2 separate regions of the Homo sapiens genome follow, and region 1 is linked to region 2. Evidence: fine-mapped expression QTL. A gene starts in region 2. The other region holds a variant in brackets. All regions are shown on one strand. Distances are between the middles of the regions.

Region 1 (5,296 bases), 22 kb after region 2:
GACACTGGGCGGGCCGGGAGGGGGGTTGCGCCCACCTGAAGATGAAAATGAAGAGCATGAGCAGCGTGCAGAAGGTAGCCACGTTGTCCATGGTCTTCACCAGCACCACGAGCTGGCGCCGCAGGGCTGGCAGAAAGCGCACCAGCTTCAGCACACGCAGCAGCCGGAAGGTGCGCAGCACAGACAAGCCACCGTCCGCCTGCCCCACGATCTCCCAGACGCTGCGGACAGGTGGGGGCGAGGGTCAGCGGGGCCACGATCCCTGACCCCAGGCCCTCGTCCCACTGGAAGCAGGGTCACCAGCCAGGGAGCCACAGCGGCCTGTGCTGCATCCCACAGATGGGAGAGGGTATGGCTGCATCAAGGTGCATGAACAGCTGCGGAAGCACCTCAAAAGCCGCTTATCCGCTGATGGCCCCGGGGGCTACCCGGCCCCCAGTGCCCCCTGGGAAAGAAGCCTGGCTCTGGCCAGGGCAGGGAAGCTCCTTCGCCGAGGGCGCTCTCCTATCCTGGGCCTTCCACAGCCAGACCTGGCTTGTCCGTTCTGCTCACTCCCTCCCCGCCCCAGGATGGGAGACCCTGCACCCCTCTCTACTCTTGAGGGATGAGCGTCCTCCTAGGGGAAGACCGGGGGCGTTTCCCCTCAAATTTTCCCAATCCTTTCTGGTTTAATTTTCTTGTAGCAAATGCTCCTCCAGCAGCAAGCAGGATTCAGCCTTTTAAGCTGGTCTTTCTCGCTCGGCCCTGAGGCCACCCCACACCTGCTTTGTTCCTGCAGGAAACAGCTCCGCTAGTTTCTAGAAACATCTGAGACGCAGCTGACCTAACAGGTGCGCACCCCGTAGTGCCTGCAGGGAAGCATAGCGTCTGGGGAGGGGACTCTGCCCAGGACGGTCCCTTGGGCCACTGGGGTCACCAAGCACCTGCTTCCCACGGCCTGTCATAAAGAGCTATCGTCGTACTTCCTCCTGTGCTCTGGGTTTTGCTCTGCAGGTGGGATTTCTGCCAGAGAGTGGAGCTTCCCGGGCCCCTCTTCCTGGGGAGAGGGTGGGGACCCACCTGATGACCACGATGATGCCGTCGAAGATGTTGTACGGGTTCCGGATGTAGCCCAGAGGGCCGCAGGCCAGCAGCTTCAGCAGCATCTCCAGGGCAAACATGCTGGTGAACACGATGTTGCTGATCTCCAGAGCATTAGTCAGCTCCTCGGGCTGCAGGCAGAGGTGGGGACAGTTCAGGAGGCCGCACCCGCGGCTCCCACCCCTCACCGGCACTGATCTGGGGCCCCCACCCGTGGCTCCCACCCCTCCCCGGCACTGATCTGGGGCCCCACCCGCGGCTCCCACCCCTCCCCGGCACTGATCGGGGCCCCCACCCGCGGCTCCCACCCCTCCCCGGCACTGATCTGGGGCCCCACCCGCGGCTCCCACCCCTCCCCGGCACTGATCTGGGCCCCCACCCGCGGCTCCCACCCCTCCCCGGCACTGATCTGGGGCCCCACCCGCGGCTCCCACCCCTCCCCGGCACTGATCTGGGGCCCCACCCACGGCTCCCACCCCTCCCCGGCACTGATCTGGGAGCAGGTTTGGCTGCATCAAGACCCAAAGGGTCAAGAGGGCTGCAGCAGCATCTCAAAAGGAGCCTAATCAGCTGCCGTCTAGAGAGGAGGCCAGGAATCCAAGGAGATCCCCTCCAGTGGAGGCTCGGCACACCTGGTCTCCTATCCTCACCATCCCCGGCTTTCTAGAGCCCTGCCTGACCGTCCTACCATCAGGTCAGGCATCGGGGCTGCTGGAAGCCTCCTGAGACTCCCCAGGCCCTGCAAGCCTGACAGGGAGCCCACCCCGTGGCCAGGCCAGCCCGCACCTGCTCATGGTACTCCACGCCCATGCTCAGCGTGTTGACAAGGATGGCCATCATGATGCCACGGCTGAAGTACTTGCTGTCCACGATGC[G/A]GCGCAGCTTGCCGCTGAAGGTAACCCAGAGGCGGCCCATCCAGCCTGGCTCGCCCGGGGCTGCCCTCTGCTGTGCCCGCCGCTGGGGGCTGCCTGGGCCTGGGCCTGGTGTGTCCGTCGCACGGGGTGGTCGCGTGGGGTCCCAGCGGTCACCGTGCCGGACGTCCTGCGTGAATTCATAGACGCCACGGCCATCTGAGTCTCCACTTTCCGAGCCGCTGAGCTCACCCTCCGGGTCCTCCAGGGCACGGGTGCAGTACGGGCAGCTCTTCAGCTCACAGGTCAGTGTGCCCGCTGGGGGGCTGGGCAGGGGGCAGGGCACACTGAGGCCCGACAGATGGCCAGGGGCCTGGCCCAGTCCTGCGGGAGAGGGCACAGACAGGGGCAGGCCCACTCAGTGGTGCTGCCACAAGGGCCCGGGAACCCTCACACACAGGAGCGGTGGGGTGAATGTGTCCCCCCCAGAAAGATCCATCCAGAGTCCAACCTCCAGAACCTGTGACTGGACTTCACAGAAAGCAGGATCTTTGCAGGTGTCATGGGTTACAATGAGGAATGAAGCTATCCCGGAGTAGGGAGGGCCCTGAGCCACGACTGTTCCAATAAGAAGAAACCAAAGAGCCATGTGAAGACAGAGAGACCGCAGGGACGTGTCGACAAGCCGGGGACTTGCAAAACCGCCAGAACTTAGGAGAGGCGAGGAGAGTTCTCCCCTAGAGCCTCCAGAGGAAGCAACCCTGCAAGGCCTGGATTTTGGAGCACTGGCCTCCAGAGCTGAGTGATTTTCCGCTGTTCTAAACCCACTAGTTCGTGGGTACAGCAGCCACAAACATCAGAAAAACCATACATTTGGGCACACACCTGGGCACACACACCCAACCCCCACAGCCGCATTCCTGCTCACGTACTGGGGCAGGGACACACTTAGGTGCAGAGACGTTTGCCTGCCTTGGGCTGTGCCATCCACAGAAATATAACAGCAGCCACTTCCCAGCAGCCACAGCACACAGGCGAAGTTAGCTACGGGATTCTGTTTGACTCGATGCGAGCAAACCATGGTTACTCCAACACGAAACTGACATGAAAATGACCATCGAGCCGTCCTGTGATGTTTTCGTGCTGTCTTTGGAGCCCGTGTGCCTCTTATAACACACAGCGGCTGGACTCCCACAATTCAAGGGCTAGGAGCATGCGCCCGACACTCGTCTGCACGCCCTGGGTACCAGCGCATGAGGGCACACAGCATCCCGGCACCCTCGGCACCCTCGCTCGCACCTCTCCCCACCACGGGGGACACACCCCCGCCTGCGTCTCTACATCTGTGTACAGAACCAGGAAGGGCCCCCAGGCCCGTGTGGAACCCTACCATCTGGGGGCCCTGGAGTCTCCCATTCACCTGGTGGACAGAGGCCCAGGCCCCGCATAGGAGAACCCCACGCCAGCCTCTCTTCCTGACTCTCGGTGACTCTGCGACGGTGCCTCCCCCACACTCCCCCACTCAGCGTCCCCACCTAGAAGGGGGGCCAGCCTCAATGGCCACGAAGGACGCTGCACGTCCTCCAGGGAAGCGTCCAGGCTGTGGACACAAGCATACGGTCCCTCTCGGGGCCAGGCAGGGGCAATGGGATGCTGCCCCAGGAGGGTCTGACAAGCCTTGTCAGATTCAAAATCCCACCTCCGCGGCTACCACTCCTGCCATGAGCTGTGGGCCACCGGGAGCTTGCTTTGGCGCTGTCAGGGGCGGGACCTGCCTCTTTCCCCTTCTTATGGGCTCCAGAGGCATAGCTGGTCTGTTTCACAAGTCAAAGCTGGGCTCATCAGAGTGCCCACAATGGGTGTGGGAATGACACACCGGAGACCCTGCCCGCCCTGCCTAGGTCCCACCGCCTCCTCCGTGGGGTGGGGCTGGGTCCTCACCATGCTCCCCGACCACATGCGGGATCTTCTCGTAGGGATCAGGGCTGTTCAAGCTCAACGGGCCGTGCCCCCCGGTGCCTGGCGGTCCACCGGCCCACTTCCCCTTGGGTCCGGGGCTGGTGCTGCCTTTGCCGCTGCCCACCCCTGAGGGCAGGATCGTGGGGTAGTTCATGGTGCCCAGCCCTGTGGCCAGTCTGAGGCTGGCAGCGGCAGTGGCTGCGGCATGTGCCACCCGGGCCCTCTCCTGCGGCCCCTCTATGTGGCAGTCGGCATGGTAGATGCTGTGCACAGACTCTGCGTCGGGGGGTCCGCGGCCTGGGGAAGGTGGCGAGGGGGGCGCGCCAGCTCGGACCAGCCTGGTGTCGCAGGCGCCTGGCTCGGGGCCGGGCCTGCGGGGGCTGCCATGGCTGAAATGGTAGTGGTGGTGGTGGTGGTGATGGTGGTGGTAGACCAGGTGGTGCACCGAGGCTGTGTGCCTGCCTGCCCGGCGCTGGCGGTGCCCGGGACCCTGGCCTTGCACAGCACTGGGGTCCACCTTCTTGCGCCAGCGGCTCTGCCAGCGGGCGTAGAGGCGCAAGCTGCGCCGCTTGACCTTGCGGAATATGTGGCCCACGTACTTCAGCAGCTCTTCGTAGCAGCTGCCAGGCTCGGAGAAGCTGGCCAGCGTGCTGTCGTTGGACAGGTGGCGTGCCCGCTGCTCCCGCATCAGCTGACTCTCCCGCTGCTTCGTCTCCGAGAACTGCGTGGCAATCACCACCAGGCACAGGTTGATCATGAAGAAGGAGCCCACCTGTGACGGGGGCGGGCGGGTAAGTGGCAGTGAGTGAGCGAGTCTCTGATTCGCCACTGAGCCCTACTGTGCGCTGCCTGTTCGAGTGGGGGCCGCGTCACAGGCACAGTGGGCGAGGTGCCCTGCTATGGGCAGGCTGCTGCGGTGTTCAGTGCTGAGCCCCCACGTCTGGAGCAGACGGCATACAGTAGCTGCTTTGTGCCTATCTGGACAAAAGACCTGGAACCCTCTTTCCTGCTTCTCCATGTGGCTCGGCCCCTCCTTTACCTGCAGATCTGGCCTTGAGATGACCCTCTCAACGGTGGCCACTCTCCCCTCCCCAGCACCCCAGGTGCGTTTCCTCCTTAGCATGGACCAGCGTGCAGCAAGTCTCTAATCGTTCGCTTCGCTTGCTCTCTCAGAACAAGCTGGGGACGTCTGTCTGCTTCTGTTACCTACTAGGTCCCCGCAGGGTGGCTCTAGGTATACCTAGGACCCCACAGACGTCTGCGGCCTGATTAACCCAACTCTGCCAGGACCCACTGGGGCCTATGAGAGGACCAGCTAAGGAGCACACCTGGGGCCACACACGCCCGTGGAAAGCGGTGCTGGGAGGCTATGCACTCCCCAGGGTGTTCCTGGCTCTTCAGCCCTG
Region 2 (5,358 bases):
CAGGCTGAAGTGCAGTGGTGTGATCAGGGCTCACTGCAGCCTTAACTCCTGGGCTCAAGCGATCCTCCCATCTTGGCCTCCCATATAGCTGGGCCACAGGAGTGAGCCACCACGCCCAGTTAATTTTTGTATTTTCAGTAGAGATGGGGTTTCGCCATGTTGGCCAGTCTGGTCTCGAACTCCTGACCTCAAGTGATCCGCCCGCCTCGGCCTCCCAAAGTGCTGGGATGACAGGCGTGAGCCACCGCACCCGGCCTGAGTTTGACATTTTCAAATTCATTTTGAGGTCTTTCTCTACATCAATAGGTGAGCCCTCTGCGTCTGGCGAGTGTTGCATTTTATCCCGGGCTCTTGTTTGCATTTTATATTTGAACATGATTACACTCAGGAATGAAATGCGGGGCTGTTCTGGTTGAAAACAACTCTCTAAAGAAACATTCACTCTTTCCTTCCAACTGTTAGATGCAGAGATGTGCATTTAGTCTCCCGAATCTCTGCAAATGACCTCTGTCCTCACAAGGGGTGGACTCAACTCCCAGTGCCCTCTCCAGCCCCACGTGACCTCTGCCTCTGCAGCCCCTGAAGGCCCATCCCTCGGCTCCTGTTCTGCAGGCCCAGCGTCTTGTTAATGAAGATGGACCTGGAACTCGGGCCCTTCTTCCTCCCTCTGGCCCATCCCACCTTCTAGGGATCACAGAGACAGCACGGGGTGACCCCCAGGGAACACTGAGCCCCTAGAAGCACTTCCACACGCCCACTGGAGGTTTTGCGGGGTGGGAGTCGGAGGGATGAGACCCCGAAGGGAAGCAAGACGGCCCCTCAGGACAGGGCTGCCGGTGTAAGGAAAGGTGGACAGCAGGGGCCGGTCACTGGGTGGAGGGGGAGGGCGGGCTCCAGCCCCAGAGCTTCCCAAATTAGATCTAAGATCCCTGGGAAGCTCAGTGAAGCTCAGCCCAGTGACACTGGCAGATGTGAGCGTCAGCTTCAGCAGGAAGGGTCTCTCAGGACGTGGCAGGCAGGCTGCTGGCCAGGGCTGCAGCCACCTGCGTTTTGACTGGGACGGGGGCACCTGCTCCAAGGTCACCCACGTGGCTGCCGGCAGGAGGCCCTGGTTCCCCGTCACAGGGGGGTGTGAGGCGGAGGGCGAGTGGGGGGGACAGGGTTCCCACCGAGGGGACGGCACCCAGGTGGCCAGGCCACCGCAGACAGAAGCAATCCCAGGTCTCCCAGGGTCCTGGACAACAGGAGACCCCACCAAGCTGGGGGCAATCACCAGGGCCAGGCCCCCCTCCCGGTTCCTCAGTTGGCTCTCCTGTCCAATGGTGGGGGTGAACGGCACCATGTCACAGGACTGCTGGGGCTCAGGGGATGGTGCCTGAAGCTTCTTCCTCCCCAGCAGGCCTGCAATCTGGGTCGTGTGGAGCACTCTGCGGGGAGTGGCGTGCTGGGGCACAGGCAGAAAGACGGGGTCCCCAGTGCTGCAGGTGAATTGAGTTGGGACAGGTGAGGGCCCTGAAGTCCCCACCTGTGGGGACCTGGGGACAGCCCTAGAGGTCAGGACTAGAGGACCTGGTTCCATGAAGACCCTGCCCCTCAGGCTCCCTCCCCACTGGGTGACATCGCCCTGTTAGGGGCACCCTGGGCCGGGGACTCGTGGCTCAGACCCCGCTCCCTTGTGTGGGGTGGGACTGTCCTGCCTCCCCTGAGGCGCCCCCTCCAGGTGTGCGGCTGCCGTGAGGGAGGAGGGTGCCCGGCCGTGGGTGCACTGCTGGCCCCGCATGCTGGTGTTGTCCTTATTGGTCACCAGGAAAAACACTGAACCTCCAGTTCTGAGCCTTGGCTACCCCACGTGCTGGCGTGCAGGCGGCCACGTCTGTGCCTGGGAGGCCACATCCTGGTGGGTGGTCAGGCAACTCCCCCCAACCCGTGGCTGAGTTTCCCCACATCAAAGAGGGGATCCCTGACCTAGAAGGTCTCAGCTGGACCCTCCAGCCTGGCCTGTGATTTGGATCTGGGGAGGGCGGCAGGAAAGTCCCGGGCGCTGCCCAGGGCCCCTAATCAGCTGAGTCATCAGGCTGGGGCAGCCAGGACGGTTAGGAAGGGCCAACCCAGGCTGGGCCGTGAAGTGGTGCCCATCTGATCTGCCGCACGAGCACAGGACCTGCTGCCGGACGTGGGGACAGGGACTTCTCAAAGAGTGGTTGTCACGAGGGCCTGAGCTGTCTCCAAAGGGCTGCTGGGCCTTGAGTTGGGACCCTCCTGAAGAACCCCCAGGACTGGGCTCCCAGAGGATGAAGGAGAGGGGGTGGCGTGCCCCGAGGGAACCAGGGAGTAATTTTTGGAGGGGGCGGCACTCAGAGGAACACTCACCCCTCCCTCAGCCCTGGCCCCGGAGCAGAGACAAGGTGAGAAGTACTTTTGCCTTCTGTCCTTCCCCGCTTTCCCTTGACGGAGCCGGCCACTTGGTGCCAGGGCTGTGGCGTCCACACAGGGATAAATGGAGGTGACGACCCTTCTCTGAGGTGCAGAAGGAACAGGTGGGGCCGTCTGTGGAGCTCCGGCCTCCTCCTCCGTCCTCCCGCCCTGCCTGACAGCAGGTGTGTGGCCACCCCTATCCCCCACGCCCAGCAGGTCCAAGGGTCAGGCTGGCCCTCCTTCTCCCTACAGTGGGCAGACACCATGGCCCTTGGGGCCTGTGGCCTCCTGCTGCTCCTGGCTGTGCCCGGTGGGTGACCTGGCCTGGGTGTGGGGATGGGGGGGCATCTGCTTCCTGCCTGGACCCCTGATGGGGGTGAAACTGGGGGCTGGTCTGAGACGGAGAAACATGCTGAGTCCCCACCCTGTGGGGCCCCGTGTCTCCTCTGAAGAGACTGCACCCCTGGCTGGAGGCCCAGCTGTCCGTGCTGGGGAGAGGCAGGAGGGATGTGCGGGTGGGAGTTGGGGGTGCAGGAGTTGGCAGGGCGGGTGGTAGTTGGGGGTGCGGGTGGGAGTTGGGGGTGCCAGGAGTCCCAGGCCCTAGAACACTGGTGATTTCTTTCCTGAGCAGGACCTGGAGGGCGGGGAGGAGGCCCAGGCCTGAGGCCAAGCTCCCGGCCTCCAGCTGCCGTTTATGGCCTGTGGCTTGTCCCACCCAGCCCTGGGCCAGTGAGACAGCAGTTGACCCAGCCTCACCAGGCCGGGCCCCTCTGCTCAGGACCAGGCCCCACCCCAGTGCCGCCCTGAGGCCTGGCAGGGGCCTCTGGAGCCCGCACACCCCTCTCCTTGGCAGCCCCCTCCATCCTGGGCCCTTCGTCTTTCCCACAGGTGTGTCCCTCAGGACTTTGCAGCCAGGTACGTCTCTGACAGGTGTGGGGTGTGGGGGAGGGTGCAGGCAAGGCCTGGCAGGAGGGCCTCGGTGACCCTCTCCTTCCCTGGGGTCCCAATGGGGGCCCGGGGAGGTCATAGTTTGTCGCCGTGGTTTCTGCTCGCATCTCTCGGTTGAGTGGGGCTGGTCGGGGTGTGCTGCAGGGCTGTCTCCCCCACCACCACTGTAGTCAGTCTGTACCTTGGGAGATGCTCTGAGGCCATGAAACAACCTGGCCCTCCTCGAACTTTCTCCCCACAGCGTCCCCACCGTGGCCCTGGAACCAGCTGGGGGCTTTGCCGTGTGGGAGAGCCGGTGCCCCACCCCACACCCGCTGCCTATCTATAAACATCTCTGTCTGTCTACATCCCAGCTTCCCTTCCATTCAGCCCAGTGGCCACACTCCATCACCAGCACAATTATCCAGCTCAGGCAGACCCAGGTGTGGCCAGTGGGTCTCCAGCTGACTTCCTCTTAATTTCTTCTTAACTTACTGAGGTGAAGTTTACAGAAGATAAAGTTACATTATCAAGCGTCCAATTCAGAGGCCCCGAGCACCTTGGACAGTGCTGTCTGCCCCCCGCCCCCCGAATTTTATCCAGCTTCGAATATCTCCACCACCCCTGAAGGAAAACCGGGGCCCACTAGGCAGCCACCCCCAGCACCCCGGGCCTTCTCGGGGGCTCCACCGTTCTGAGCCCCTTTCTAGCCGCCTAGGGGCCCTCTGCAGCCTTTCCACCGCCTCCGGGAGCCCTGGTTAGTTTGTGGAGCATGGTGCTTAGAAAGGACGACCTGAGCCCCAGGCGCGCTCACTGCTCCTGAGACGTCATTTCTGCTGCACCCACGATGCTTCTGGGGAGAGTCTGGCAGACGAGAGAGCTGAAGAGCAAAGTCCCCAAGAAGGCAGGGAGGTGTGGTCAGGGAAGGCTTCATGGAGGAAGTGCAGTGGGTTTCTTGGGATCCCCACCAGGCACCCCTTCCTCCTTCGACTTAGGGTGTGGCCGGCCGCAGGTTTCGGATGCAGGCGGCCGGATCGTGGGGGGTCACGCTGCCCCGGCCGGCGCATGGCCATGGCAGGCCAGCCTCCGCCTGCGGAGGGTGCACGTGTGCGGCGGGTCACTGCTCAGCCCCCAGTGGGTGCTCACAGCTGCCCACTGCTTCTCCGGGTGAGTGTCCGGGTGGGCAGGGGCAGTCTCAATGTCCAGGCCCCAGTGGGGCATGCGCCAGCGCAGAGGCCTCCACTTGGTCTTGACTCACTCCGAGGCTTGGGAACTCTGAGCCTACTTCCTTCCAATGGAAAGGGAGGAGCTGGTTGCCCACCTTCTGTGAGGTTCTGCAGCTCTTTGCTCACCTCTAGGGATGGACAGCTCCCTCCCTCCTTCCCTCCCCTCGGTCTCTTCACGTGGAGCTGAGCTTGCAATCTGCCTCCTGACCAGCCCCTGCTGGTGTCGGGCATGCTGCTGGCTTTTCCAGGGGCTGGCAGGAACCCCAAGGTGCTGCCGTGGTCCTTGGGCCCTGCAGGGTGAGGCCACTGCCCAGGCTTTCTGCGTCCCAAGCCTAGGAGGGAAGAGCTGGGCTTCGGATGCCTGCAAGGGTAGGGTCTGGGCGGGGCCGACACTGACCTCCAGCCTCCGCAGCTGGCCCCTCTCACCCAGCCACCTTCCCTCCCAGGTCCCTGAACTCATCCGACTACCAGGTGCACCTGGGGGAACTGGAGATCACTCTGTCTCCCCACTTCTCCACCGTGAGGCAGATCATCCTGCACTCCAGCCCCTCAGGACAGCCGGGGACCAGCGGGGACATCGCCCTGGTGGAGCTCAGTGTCCCCGTGACCCTCTCCAGCCGGATCCTGCCCGTCTGCCTCCCGGAGGCCTCAGATGACTTCTGCCCTGGGATCCGGTGCTGGGTGACCGGCTGGGGCTATACGCGGGAGGGAGGTGAGGAGCCCCCGTGGGGATGCTGGGATGGAGGAAGGCAAGGGCGGCAGGAAGAGAGCTGGCTTGAGGGATGCTGAT

Evidence for each region. PIP is the estimated chance that this variant, and not a neighbour inherited with it, causes the effect.
Region 1: its variant is fine-mapped to the expression of TPSG1 in unexposed skin (GTEx, PIP 0.97).

Annotation. Positions count from the first base shown.
Region 1 is chr16:1,201,029-1,206,324 of GRCh38, reverse strand. CACNA1H (calcium voltage-gated channel subunit alpha1 H) reads right to left here. Exons shown (of 35, transcript NM_021098.3): 9 at 3,873-4,662; 10 at 1,867-2,315; 11 at 1,060-1,211; 12 at 36-221. LOC124903623 (a long non-coding RNA gene) reads left to right here and starts at 4,614. Exons shown (of 3, transcript XR_007064938.1): 1 at 4,614-4,681; 2 at 4,936-4,993; 3 at 5,104-5,296. The variant G/A (reference allele first, on the strand shown) is at 1,956.
Region 2 is chr16:1,222,574-1,227,931 of GRCh38, reverse strand. TPSG1 (tryptase gamma 1) reads left to right here and starts at 2,664. Exons shown (of 6, transcript NM_012467.4): 1 at 2,664-2,725; 2 at 3,304-3,330; 3 at 4,338-4,509; 4 at 5,015-5,280. The coding sequence starts at 2,680. LOC124903621 reads right to left here and starts at 2,681. Exons shown (of 2, transcript XM_047434997.1): 1 at 2,371-2,681; 2 at 692-1,478. The coding sequence starts at 2,681. The coding sequence ends at 692. RefSeq lists a silencer at 3,626-3,812.